Linked DNA regions of Homo sapiens. The protein of the gene in region 1 purifies or fractionates together with the protein of each later gene. This does not show direct contact. Each region holds a gene or a part of one and is shown on either strand. Other genes may lie near its edges.

What was found.
Region 2: the proteins of BCAR3 (region 1) and DEFA5 purify together in Homo sapiens (affinity purification with mass spectrometry; 2 studies listed by BioGRID and IntAct, with this or other methods). This does not show direct contact.

What each region holds. Positions count from the first base shown.
Region 1 is NC_000001.11:93,559,931-93,566,973, reverse strand, and holds the end of BCAR3 (breast cancer anti-estrogen resistance protein 3), read left to right. Parts: intron 1-4,554; coding exon 4,555-4,733; 3' UTR 4,734-5,233; downstream 5,234-7,043. UniProt on the Homo sapiens protein: Acts as an adapter protein downstream of several growth factor receptors to promote cell proliferation, migration, and redistribution of actin fibers.
Region 2 is NC_000008.11:7,054,804-7,061,964, forward strand, and holds DEFA5 (defensin alpha 5 preproprotein), read right to left. Parts: upstream 1,937-7,161; 5' UTR 1,895-1,936; coding exon 1,723-1,894; intron 741-1,722; coding exon 628-740; 3' UTR 501-627; downstream 1-500. UniProt on the Homo sapiens protein: Host-defense peptide that maintains sterility in the urogenital system.

The sequences.
Region 1 (7,043 bases):
GGTAGATCACTTGAAGTCAGGAGTTCAAGACCAGCTTGGCCAACATGATGAAACCCTGTCTCTAATAGAAATACAAAAATTAGCTGGGCGTGATGGTGTGTGCCTGTGATCCCAGCTACTCAGGAGGCTGAGGCAGGAGAATCACTTGAACCCGGGAGGCGGAGGTTGCAGTGAGCCGAGATCGCACCACTGCACTCCAGCCTGGGCGCTGGGCAACAGAACAAGAATTGGCCAACTTGCCTACCACTTATTAATAGTACCTCTAATAGGTGAGATTAGAAAAGGTGATGTGCCAAGATGAGGAGGTGGAGTTTTATCCAGACCTCATTTATCTGCATTCCTGTTCCTTCCCAGTCACACTGGGAAGTGAGCTCCCCTGCTCTTAGCATCAGACACATCCTGGAAAGTGTGGGGCAGTGTTGCGTAAACGGATTTTTCTTACAAGTGCTATGGTGACAGAAAGCAGCCTCCTCAGTCAGCACGGCCGGCATTTATCACACATGTGGCATGCGCGCGGCACCGTGCTAACTGGATGTCCTGAGGAATTTAAGCAGGTACGATAAATGCAGTGTATACTGTGGGAGCACTTAGGGGAAGGGACTGATTTGGTCAGAGATGTTAGGAAAGAGGAAGCACCTGGTGACAGCTTCCCAGAAAACACTGCATTGATTGTTAAAGGACAAAAGCAGTTACCAGCAAGCAGGGCTGGGAATTCCACTCAGATGGCACAACCCAAGCAAAGGCGCTGAGAGACCTTGGGGAAAACTGGGATCCACAAGTACTTGGGTTTAGATTTGTGCAAAGTATGACCTAAGGAATGGCCAACTAGGCTACAGAGGGAGGTGCAGCTGGGAAGCCCTTCCACATAAGACCGTGGCTGAAGAAGAGCCAGTGAAGGGTTTAATCATGGGAGGGTGTCACATGGTCAGATTTCTGTTTTAAAGTAAATTACTCTGGTGTCTGTGTGGAGGAAGGCTGGAAGGCTGAAGGTTTGCTGGCAGAAAGACCATTCAGGAAGGAGGGCTTTGCCAAGGCAGTCATCAAGGATGACTATTTTCCATTACTATATAATTTTTTAAATTCTTCAAGGGCTCACAGTTTGATTCACAAAGTTAAGAACTATGTGGGGGCAGGAGACTCCATTTATTTAATTCTAAAAGGGAGCTGCCTCAGAACCAGATGTGGGACTTAGTCGTTTGCACCATCTGCTGTGGGTATAAGCACCGCATACCTGTTTCATTTTCTTCCTCAAAAAGTTCTCCAGGATTGGCTGTATGTTACTCAAACAATAAAAGCACACAAGTCAACAAGTATCAGAGTGCCTACTTAGACAAAGCCAATGAATACATTACCATGGATGTTGCATAAGCCAATACATCAGGGTGGGTTTTGAGAAAAGTGTGCCATAAGCTGCTCTACAGCTTTAAATCACTTTAAAGGTCACTGATGGAATTTTTCAGTCGATCCTAATATAGATTTCACAGCAAGTACCCATTGCTGTAAGTGACAGTGAACCCAGGAAAGGCAGAGATCTGCTCACCAGCATAGACCAGACCACGTGAATGGGAAGGGGCTCAAAGCATGTATGAATAGGAGTCACCATCTGGGGGCCGGGCGCAGTGGCTCATGCCTGTATTCCCAGCACTTTCGGAGGCTGAGGTAGGCAGATCACCTGAGGTCAGGACTTAGAGGCCAGCCTGGACAACATGGCAAAACCCCGTCTCTGTTAAAAATACAAAAATTAGCCGGGGAATTTTGAGAGGGAATACTTGAGAGGCTGAGGCAGGAGTATCAAGCGATTCTCCTTGATTCTTAATTTCATTGAGCCGAGATTGTGCCACTGCACTCCAGCCTGGTCTCAAAAAAAAAAAAAGTCACCATCTGGCCTTTGGTTGGTTATCCACCAAGGATATTCTGGCATCATCAGGAAGAAAATATTCCTGTTGTCCTTTCTACAACCAAGATCCTGTGATCTAGATGGCAGGTATATTTAATGGCAGAACAAACTATCCCAGCAATAATAAAGGATGAGAACCACATGACTCTTTGGCTAGAGGCTTCTCTCTCTTTAAAAGAGTTGCCTGAACATCTTTGGCCTTAAGCAGACCACATCCTCTCTTAGATGGAATAGAGTTAAGAAATAGGCCCACACATATGGCTGACAGTTGATTTTCAACAAAGGTGCCAAAATAATTCACTGGATAAAGTATAATCCTGCAAATGGTATCTGCTATTGGATATCCATATGCAAAAAAGTGAATCTCGATCCTTACCTCATACCATACACAATAATCCAAAATGGATCATAGACCCAAAATGTAAGAGCTAAAGTATAACCTTCTGTAAGAAAACATAGGAGAAATTCTTTGTGCCCTTAAGCTAAGTAAAGACTTCTTGGCCAGGCACGGTGGCTCACGCCTGTAATCCCAGCATTTTGGGAGGCTGAGGCAGGCGGATCACCTGAGGTCGGGAGTTCAAGACCAGCCTGACCAACGTGGAGAAACCCCGTCTCTACTAAAAATACAAAATTAGCCGGGCGTGGTGGCGCATGCCTGTAATCTCAGCTACTCGGGAGGCTGAGGCAGGAGAATTGCTTGAACCCAGGAGGCAGAGGTTGCACCATTGCACTTCAGCCTGGGCAACAAAAGCAAAACTCCATCTCAAAAAAAAAAAAAAAAAAAAAGAAAGAAAGAAATTCTTAGGACACAAAAAGCATGAACCACAGCAGAAAACATTGAGTACACATATATCTGATAAAGGACTTACATCTAGGCTATACAAAGAACTCTTACAACTCAGTGAGAAGATAAAATTTAAATAGACAAAAATTTGAATAGACACTACATCAGAGAAGGCATACAAATGACAACTACATGAAAAGATGTTCAAAGCATTCATCATTAGGGAAATGTAAATTTAAACCAACCACAATGAGATACCACCACACTATCTAGAATGGCTACAACTAAAAAGAATGATAGGCCAGGCACGGTGGCTAATGTCTGTAATCCCAGCACTTTGGGAGGTCGAGGCGGGTGGATCACCTGAGGTCAAAAGTTCGAGACCAGCCTGGCCAACATGGCAAAACCCCGTCTCTACTGAAAATACAAAAAATTAGCCAGGCGTGGTAGCACACACCTGTAGTCCCAGCTACTTGGGAGGCTGAGGCAGGAGAATTGCTTGAACCCGAGAGGTAGAGGTTGTGGTGAGCCAGGATCGTGCCACTGCACTCCAGCCTGGGCAACACAGCGAGACTCCTTCTCAAAAAAATAAAAATAAAAAATGATAAAACTAAGGGTTGGCAGCATGTGGAAAAACTGGAGTCTTCATATGTTACTGCTGTGAATATAAAATGATACAGCCATTTTGGAATAGAGTTTAATAGTTTCTTTAAAAGTAAACATATACTGATTGTATGACCCAATAATTCCTTTCCTAGAGAAATGAAAACACATGTCCACACAAGATTTGTACACAAGTGTTCACAACCACTTACTCATAGCAGCCAGAAGCAATCCAAATGTCATCAATTGGTGAATGGATAAACAAAAACAATGGCATGTCCATAAAACTGAATATTGATCAGTAAGAATGATTAGCATGCAACATATGGAATAATCTCAAAAACATCATGCTAAGTGAAAGAAGTCACACATTAAAAAGTTCATAGTGGATGATTCCATTTATCCCATATTTCTAGAAAAGGCAAAACAGTAGCAACAGAAAGCAGATCAGTGGTTGACTGAGGTCTGCAGTAGGAACAGGAATTGACTGCAAAGAGGTACTAAGGTGATGGAAGTGTTCTAAGACTGGTGGTAATGGTTTATGTAAAAACTTACCATCATAAATCAAACTCCACAGCCAAAAACAGGTGAATCATATGACATGTAAACTATACATCAGTAAAGTTGGTAAAAACAAGTAACGAACTCCTAGGTACAATGAACCCTCCTTCCCACAGCACTACTTCCCACAGTGGTTTGTACAAACCAATTTCACTCTATTGTTTTTTAATGAGTTTACCTGTTATTTCTTCTCTGAAGGTGCTTAGGTTCTGCAGGGTGGGGCTCTGCTCTCCCTTATATAGAACAGATCCTATATTTTTCTTTGGGGACATTTTTTAAAGTTCTGAGAGAGAGAAGATGTTCATTTTGATGCTACTTTAAGCAAGCTTTCAGTCTATTTTTTTTTTTTTTTTTTTTTTTGAGATGGAGTCTCGCTTGTCACCCAGGCTGCAGTGCAGTGGCGCAGTCTCGCTCACTGCAAGCTCCACCTCCCGGGTTCACGCCATTCTCCTGCCTCAGCCTCCCGAGTAGCTGGGACTACAGGCGCTCGCCACCACGCCTGGCTAATTTTTTGTATTTTTTTAGTAGAGACGGGATTTCACTGTGTTAGCCAGGATGGTCTCGATCTCCTGATCTTGTGATCCACCCACCTCGGCCTCCCAAAGTGCTGGGATTACAGGCGTGAGCCACCGCGCCTGGTGCTTTCAGTCTATTTTTAACACATCTTAGGCAGAACTGAAGTAACTTTTTGTTTATTTTGTTTCATTAGGTTTTCAACCAGATGAAGAAATGAATGAAATCTGCAAGACTGAATTTCAAATGCGATTGCTATGGGGCAGCAAAGGTGCACAAGTCAATCAGACAGAGAGATATGAGAAATTCAACCAGATTTTAACTGCCCTCTCGCGTAAATTGGAACCTCCTCCTGTAAAGCAGGCAGAGCTTTGATAACTCTCCAGAGAACCTTTAGAATATCTTTTCAAGTTTCCCCAGCTTCATCTTTGGGAAAGCTTACTGTTTTTGATAAAGTAATAATGTGCAAATCTGACAATATACAAGCTTTTAGTATCCACAGGATATTAAACGTGTAAATTGCACAGAGCACACTTATTTATGAATTGTCTAAAGTTACTACTGATTTTAAAATGAATAATTTATTATTAAGGTAACTACTGCTAATGTTGATCAGCAAATTTAAGAGAAGACCTAGCTATGTTGGCTGGTTGCTTTCTATTATCATGGTATTTGACCATTTTAGTTTTAATTCCATGTCAGATAAGTGTAAATAGAAGAGTTTAAAAGCATGAAACATTTCAGAAGGTATCAGTTATATGATATTCTTTAAACAAATATGAAAAATGTAAATACTCATGAATGAAAATACATCTTTTTGTGAAACAGTTGTATCCAGTCTCTTTCATATTAAACAACTCATCTTGGTACAATAACTCTACCTCTTAGCTACCTCAAGCATGCTCTTCCCTAGGTACCGTATCCTGATAGTAAACCAAAATGAATGAAAGTGGTATGAAAAATTTAATGTTCCTGGATTAAAAGGCAGAGTGATTGATAGTGACACAAGGTAGAAACAGCTCGAGAGGACCTGGGTTCAAACTCAAGCTATGGTACTTGCTACCAGCTGGAGTTAGGCCAAGTTTACCTCATTGAATTCCATGTGCAGCATGGACACCCAGTATGATGAACATAACATCATCTCTTCACATATTTCAGAGTAATCAACTGTTTTACCTTTTCCTCTAGCTGATAAGTACAACAATGAGTTTCCTAGGTTGGCTTTCTAGGTTTCTCATTTTGCAAAGGGGATACTTTCTAGTTTCTTTCTAGTTTAGCAATATCCCTCTCAACTTTCCCTATTGTACAAAATTTGGAATATAAGACTTTAACGTATTCTGTTACTCTGCCATCAACTGTCAAACTTCTTTTAATAATCTGTTTTTCCTTCTTCTATTTTAAATAATATTAGGACCATACCAACTTTTATATTCATCTTAAACCGGCTGTGAAAATTTCTTCATGATGTTAAATAGCCTTTAAAAAATATGATTTATTGGTTACAGAAGTTACACTGTAACTTAACTATCACCCTATGATGGTTTTTAAAAATGTGCCACATTTTTTAAAAGGTGCCACGTTGTTATTTTTTGTTGAAAAAAACCAAAGCACATTTCTACTTCTGGCAATATGGTGGTTCAGATGTTCTTAGCCCTCTCACCATAACTAACTAAATCCTGAATACATTTTAATAAACATACCTTTTAGTGTATGATCAACCTTGATAGAAATCCCCAAGGAACAAACTTCTCTCCCCGCCGCACCTGAAAAAGGTACAGCACATTTGAATCAACTCCTCATGAGAACTTAAGAGCCGGGGCAGACCTAGAGGCAAAGAGTAACGTCAGCTCAGTGAATGAGAGTCTGTCTTGGGGGAACTTAAAATGCCTCCATTAAGCAGGAATCCTTAAAGGGTCCCTGTTAATGGAATAGAAAACATTCATCTGCCAGCAAAGGAAGGTTGCCAGGAAACATGACTGTCTTCACATACAGCTCCAGGAAGAAAACAATTATAATGACTATAGTGTTCAGTGAGGATTGGCAACCACACACCTGTCCTCATACAGGTCTGGAGTAAAAATTACAAAATCCAAAACCAAGAAATTGATTTACAGTGGTCCCAGGTTGGTGGTGTCTACCAGATATAAAAGCTTATTATTAAGCTATAGTAATTAAGGTTTCATCAGAAATTTAACATGACAGAGTGAAACTGTTGATAAATGGGGGAAATAATGACTTTAATTCTTGAACAATTGGTTAAGCAAATGAAAGGGGGAAAATGGCCTCTTACCTCTTATCATATACAGAAATAAAATCTGGATGAGTTAAGAACCTACATGTGAAAGGCAAAATCATAATACTTTTAGAAGAAAGTATCTTTTACTTTGAATCAAATAAGAATTTCTTAGAAAAAGCATTAATTATAAAATAATGATTAATCTGCATTAAAATGAATAAATTCCATTCAAAAGACATCATAGAGAACCTGAAAAATCAGAGATATTGACAACACATAAAATGGACAACAGAATACTATGGTTGGTAGGCAGCCTCCAAGATGGTCCCCAATGTTCTCTGCCTCCTGGTGCTCACACTCTGTGTTGTCCCTTCCTGCATTATACCAGGCTTTGTCTGTGCCACCAAGCACACAGGGCAGAAATGTTGCATCTGAGATAGGTTATGAGA
Region 2 (7,161 bases), on another chromosome or scaffold:
CCTGTCAGGAATGGTGGCTCAAGCATGTAATCCTAGCACTTTGGGGGGCTGAGGAGAGCAGATCACTTAAGCTCAGGGGTTCGAGACCAACCTGGGCAATATGGTGAAACCCTGTCTCTACAAAAAAATACAAACCATTAGTAGGGTGTGGTGGCACATGCCTGTAGTCCCAGCTACTCAAGAGGCTGAGGTGGGAGGATCATTTGAGCACAGGAGGTCAAGGCTGCAGTGAGCCGAGATTGCACCGCTGTACTCCAGCTTGGGTGGCTAAGTTAGACACTGTCTCAAACAACAACAATAAAAAACCCAATTATATTCATTTTTGTTATTTTGTTATTGCTCTATGATGCTCAAATTGTGCATCATTGGAATGCAAAGACCAGTTAACTTAATGTAGATCAGAATTCTCAATACAAAGGAACCATACAAACCACCATATAACAAAGCAAAAGAAAAAAAAGGAAAAAGAAAAGAAAATTAAAAAGGTCAAACACACTAAGTTTAATGCTTGAACTTTATTTTGGAGAGAGAAATTTAGAAAGACACAAGGTACACAGAGTAAAATGTTTTTCTTTTTTCAGGACCTTGAACTGAATCTTGCACTGCTTTGGTTTCTATCTAGGAAGCTCAGCGACAGCAGAGTCTGTAGAGGCGGCCACTGATTTCACACACCCCGGAGAGGGACTCACGGGTAGCACAACGGCCGGTTCGGCAATAGCAGGTGGCTCTTGCCTGAGAACCTGTGGAAAGAAGAGAGGGTCAGGCACAGCGAGGGAGGTGGGAAAAAGGACAAGCACAGCCAGACTAACTGAGATAGTCTAAATAAGAGACACTGTATCAGTCATGTTAGGATGGAGAAAATTCATGTCTTTGTCGTAAGTGACAAGAAATCTTACTAGCTATGTGTTAGTCATGCAAGATCATAGTTTTTTTCCCCATGTGAGTCTATCCAGGATGTATTTATTACCTGCTCCCTGGTCCAACAATATACCTCTCAACCTCAGGGTTACCTACTCTTCATTCTGCTTCATCCACACGCCTAATCTTGACCTCCATGTGTGATTTCCAGGTCCTAACAAGGCTCCCTAAAGCACCTGAATCAGTTTCTGAAATGCCGCATTGTGCATGCTAATGTCATGGACCAAATACTTTGGTGCTCAAGGAGTCTTTGAAGACTTTCCAAATTCAAATTCTTCATTCTCTGTCTCTCCTTTTTTTTTTTTTTTTTTTTTTTTTAACATTTTACATATTTACTTGTTTTAATTGACAAACAATAATTGTGTATATGTATGAGACACAATATGATGTTTTGATCTAAGGATGTATTGTAGAAAGATTTAATCAAGCCTATTAGCCTACATCAAAACACACCTATAGGTTCCTCTCTAGGTTCTAAAAGCTTTTCCAATGGACAAAGTAAAACACTCTCTATATAACTAAGTCTGCCCATTTAGATCTACAAAGAACTAGTCAGTGTAGCTCTTTCTATCTTAAAAGTAGCAAATTTCACAGAAATATCTTGGAACTGAAAGTCTTAGAAAAAAGAAAATCTTTTAGATTTATTTGGTTCTCACTGATTAATTTATAGATGAGAAAATCAAGGTCCAGGAAGATTAAGTAAAGTCACTCAAGTGAGGTAGACCTTTCCACACTTGACTCCAGATCCTTTCTCCAATCCTTTTTTTCTAGATTTTGCAGATGTGCAAGATTGATGTCTCCTACCTGAGGTTCTAAGAGCAGAGAGTCCATTTCCTGCAAAGGAGATAGCAAGGTCCTGGTTGTCTTCCCCAGACTGCTTCTGGGTTGTAGCCTCATCAGCTCTTTCCTGGAGTGACTCAGCCTGGGCCTGCAGGGCCACCAGGAGAATGGCAGCAAGGATGGCGATGGTCCTCATGGCTGGGGTCACCTGCAGGAGGGAGAGCAGGAGTGGATATGTGGGGAGTGAGGAGTCAGCCTGGATTTATAGCTCTGCTGGGAGAAGACCTGAGACAGAAGCTGCAGTGAGAGGAGGTGGGCATGTGATTGGGAGGGGAAGGACTGCCTTTGTTCTCAAGATCCCTTTGATGCTCCTCTTTCTCCCAGCTTTCATCAAAGCGTGAGTCTGTATGCTTAATGCCTCTTCTTGATCCAAGGTGTTAATGATGATAAGGGTATTACTATCCTGTTCTGTTTCCCATCTGCTTGAGTATTTACTTTTATATATTCAAAAAAGAAAAACAACAGCGCTTTCATTCAAGAAGTTTGGGGATCAAATGCCTCTTGTTTTCTGAAGATGGTCCCTGGTACTCTCTGGATGACTCTCTGGGGGCAGACCTGGGACTCAGTGGAGTAGAGAGTTAATTCATTGCAGGATTCAGGGATATTACTAACCTCATGTAGGAGGCTTTTGAGATCTCGAGGTGAGTAGTCTCCCGCTGGTGCCAGTATGGAGAGGTCAATGACCTTATCAGGCTATAGGGGAAATGAGTTCAGTAAAATAGTAGGCCAAGTTTATCAGATTAAAATAAAAATTCGGATTTAGTTCAAGGAGTTGGTGTGATCTGAATGCATCACATAAAATGTGTAGCGGGTACTTCTCTCCACTTTGGGGAATATCAAAGTAATTTAGGTGCGTACAGCCCCTTTCTGAGATTTTTTTTTTAGTTTTAGAAAATTGTAAATCATGCACAAGGAACAACATTCAAAAGGTAGAAGTCATGAGCTCTCATTTCTACCCCCAGGCCTTCAGTTCTGACCCAGCAAACCATCACTATTAACAGTTACACATAGTATTCTGCACTTCGCTTTTTTCACCTGTAACATTGGCACTTTGTATATCAAAATACATGGAATGCTATTATAATTTTAATAGCCTTATACTATCCCAGGGTTTGTATATGCCATCACTTATTTTTTGTACTGATAAAATATTATAAAATTATTACAATTTGGTTATTTTTAAACTTTTGCAGTAATAAGTAAAGTTACAGTGATTATCTTGTATATATGTTCTCTTACCTATATGGATAAACTTATAGAAATAGAATTGCTGTGTCAAAGAATGCATCTTAAGCCAGCATGGTGGTACATGCCTATATTTCTAGCTATTTGAGAGGCTGAGGTGGGAGGATCACTGGAGACCAGGAGTTCGATACCAGCCTAAAAACATAGTGAGACCCCTTTCTCTTAAAAAAAAAAAAAGAGACTATATCTTACACATTTTTAAGATATTACTACATATTTCCATAATATCACCATATTTGATCCAAATCCTTTGGGGCTCAGTGGGCCCTTGGAGAGTCTCTATATTTGAATTCCTCATTTAATTTTTTTCAAATTTATTTATTTATTCATTGAAAAATAATTTTCTGTATATTTGTAGGGTATGATGTGACGTTTGGATTGATATCCACATGGGAGAAACACATAAGCTAATTAAGATAGCCATCACCTCACCAACTTAATTTTTTAAGGAGAATTACAAATTGATTCCTTTAGCAGTTTGAAAGATACAATACATCACTATTAACTGTGGTCACCGTGCAGTGCCATAGATCACTAAGACTCTCCAGCATAACTGAAACTTTGTACTCTTGGCTCAACATCTTCTCTTTTCCTATCTCACCCACCTGCAGCTTCTGATGACCACCTTTGTACTCTAGTTCCATAAAACTGACATTTTAACATTCCATGTGTAAGTGATATCATATAGTATTTGTCTTCCTGTGTCTGGTTTATTTCGTTTAGCACATTGTCCTTTGGTTCCATCCATGTTGTCATGAATGAAGAATTTCCTTCTTTTTTTTTTTTTTTTTTTTTTTTGAGACGGAGTCTTGCTGTCGCCCAGGCTGGAGTGCAGTGGTGCGATCCCGGCTCACTGCAACCTCCGCCTCCCAGGTTCACGCCTTTCTCCTGCCTCAGCCTCCTGAGTAGCTGGGAGTACAGTCGCCCGCCACCATGCTCGGCTAATTTTTTTGTATTTTTAGTAGAGACGGTGTTTTACTGTGTTAGCGAGGATGATCTCGATTTCCTGACCTCGTGATCCGCCCGCCTGGGCCACCCAAAGTGCTGGGATTACAGGAGTGAGCCACCGCGCCCTGCCAATTTCCTTCTTTTTTAAGGCTATATGGTATACCATCTTGCATGTATACCATATTTTCTTTATTCATTCATCCACTGATGAACATTTAGGCTAATTCCATATCTTGCTTATTTTGAATAATGCTGAAATGGACATGGGAGTGCAGATTCTTCTTTGATACAGTGATTTCAATTTCTTGGGAGATATACCCAGAAGTGGGATTGCTGGGTCATATGGTAATTCTATGTTCAGTGCTTTGAGGAACCGCCATACTATTTTCCAAAATGGCTGCACTAATTTACATTTCCACCAATGGCCTACAAGGGTCCCCTTTTTTTTATATCCTCACCAACACGTATTATTTGTCTACTTGTTAAAAGCCATTCTAACAGATGATTACCTCTTTATGATTTTAATTTGCATTTCCCTGATAATTAGTGATGTCGAGTGTGTTTTTCATATATCTGTGGGCCAGGTTTATTGCCCTTTTTTAAATTGAGATGTTTGTTTTCGTCTTATTGAGTGTTTGAATTCCTTATATCTTTGGGATATTAGCCCCTTATCAGATATATGGTTTGCAAACACTTTCTCCTAGTCCCTGGATCATCTTTTTGTTTCCTTTCTGTGCAGAAGTTTTTTAGTTGATGTAACCTCCTTGGTCTATTTTTGATTTTGTTGTCTTTGCTTTTGGAGTCCTGTTGTAGAAATAATTGCCCAGAAAAATGTCATAAAGATTTCCCTCCATGTTTTCTTCTAGTAGATTTACAATTTCGGGTCTTTTATGTAAGTCTTTAATCCATTTTGAGTTGAGTTTTGTGTATAGTGTGGGATAAGTGTCCAATTTCATTCTTCTGCTTGTGGATATCTAGTTTTCCTTACACCTTTTAGTGAAAAGACTGTCCTTTCCCCATTGTGTGTTCTTGGCATCTTTGTTGAAGATCAAGTAATCATAAAGCCCTGGGTATAGTTTTGGGCTTTCTACTCCTTTCCTTTGGTTATTGTGTCTGCTTTTACACCAGACCATGCTGTTTTGCTTCCAATAACTTTATGATACATTTTAAAATGAGAGAGCATGATGCCGCTATCTTTGTTATTTTTGCTCAAGATTGCTTTGGCTATTCGGGGTCATTTCTGATTTCATGCCAATTTTAGTATTTTTTTAATTCCTGTGAAAAATTGCATTGGAATTTTGATGGGGATCTACAGATCACTTTGGGTAGTGTAGACATTTTAATAATATTAATTCTTCCAATCCATGAACTCAAGATATCTTTCCATTCATTTGTGTCTTCTTCAGTTTTATTCATCAATATTTATAGTTTTCAGTGTACAGATCTTTCACTTTTTTGGTTAAAATTACTTCTAAGAATTTTATTTTTGAGTGCTATTATAAATGAGATTGTGTGGGCTTCTAAACCTTTGTGCCAGTCCAAACTCCTGTCTTTATTCTTAGTGACTCCTACAAAATTAGAAAGTGTCAAGTCATGCTATTGCCTTGAGAGAGTGGGAGAGAAGCCAGACCTTTAGAATACAGTGGAGAGGTTGGGGTGTTTGATATGTGTTTCAGTTTTTTCTTTCTTTGCAGAGAAACTGATAGAGTTTATCTCCCACTTATTCTGCCTTATGAAAATGAGAGGATCTGAATTAAATCTGTAATATCTATAATATTTATTTGAATTCGTGAATTAACAGGGAGCCTGGGAGGGACTAATTTCCTGCATCAGTGATTCCAGGTTTCATGGCCCTTGTTTTGCCCTGGTGGCCATTTAGCACCAGGTTTTAAACCATCTGTATTTGTACTGCTTCTCTATTTCTCACTGGACATTGCTAAGTTTGTAGATAGCGTTCCACAATTGTTTCCTAGCCTCCGTCTCTCTGGCATTGTCTCTCTGAATCTCTAGCAATGACTGAAGAAACAATTTGGGACATTTTTGTTCCAGTTCTAACCTTTCTCCATGAATTCTCTCATGTGTTTGATCACCCAGAGTCCTTATTATTTGGAGAAATTGATATCTTCAGTCTCTCTTCATCCTTCTCTGACCCCAAAATTAATTGGGTGAGCAGAAAATCTGGAAAGATAAATGGGTGGTTTAAAAACCACTGTCCAGGCCCTGTGGTGTGAGAGGCAGAGCTGAGCACTGGCCAAGCCAGAAGATGCCCGGTGGCCCATCTTCCCAGGACCAGGCCCTCACCGGCAGCCCATTGCTCAGCCTTAGACACAACTCTGTTGCCAGTCAAGTTTCTCATTATCTCTGGCAGAAGTATTTCTAGAGAACTCCACTGGGCTGGGCGCAATGGCTCATGCATGTAATCCCAGCACTTTGGGAGGCCAAGGCGGGCAGATCATTTGAAGTTAGGAGGTCGAGACCAGCCTTGCCAACATGGTGAAACTCCATCTCTACTAAAAATACAAAAATTATCTGGATGTGGCAGCGGGTGCCTATAGTCCCAGCTACTCTGGAGGCTGAGACACGAGAATCTCTTGAACGTGGACAGCAGAGGTTGCAGGGAGCTGAGATTGTGCCAGTGCACTCCAGCCTGGGCAACAAAGCGAGACTCCATACCCCCACCCCCCCCAAAAAAAAAGAAAGAAAGAAAAAGAAAACGGCACTGACATTATGGAAAATAATTTTAGTTTCTTAATGCGTTTGTAAATAATCATTTAGAATAAAATGCCTTTCCTGTTCCCTTTTTTCTTTAACTGTAGCAAAGTGCCCATTATCTATTGTCCCCTTGACTTCAAACGTGCTGTCATTTAAAATAAAGTCTGAAAAACTATTTTTCTTGTCCTTTATTCTGAGTCCAATCTTGCCTCTCCTATACTCAGCGCTGGGACAAAAACAGGATTTCCATCCATAATATGGACATTCACTCTTAATTTCCATACATAATATGGACATTCACTCTTAGAAGGCATGTACTCCCTGGGCGATGATTTAATTATTTAACATAAAAATTAATTTAACTGTGCTAAAAACTAAAGGGCAAGGGAATTGGCCTGAAAGAAAATACTTCAGATAGCAACAGAATCTGGTTTTATAATAGAGGTTTTGTATTCCAGGATATTCCAGGGGACAAACAATGCTTAGATGTGTGTTTAT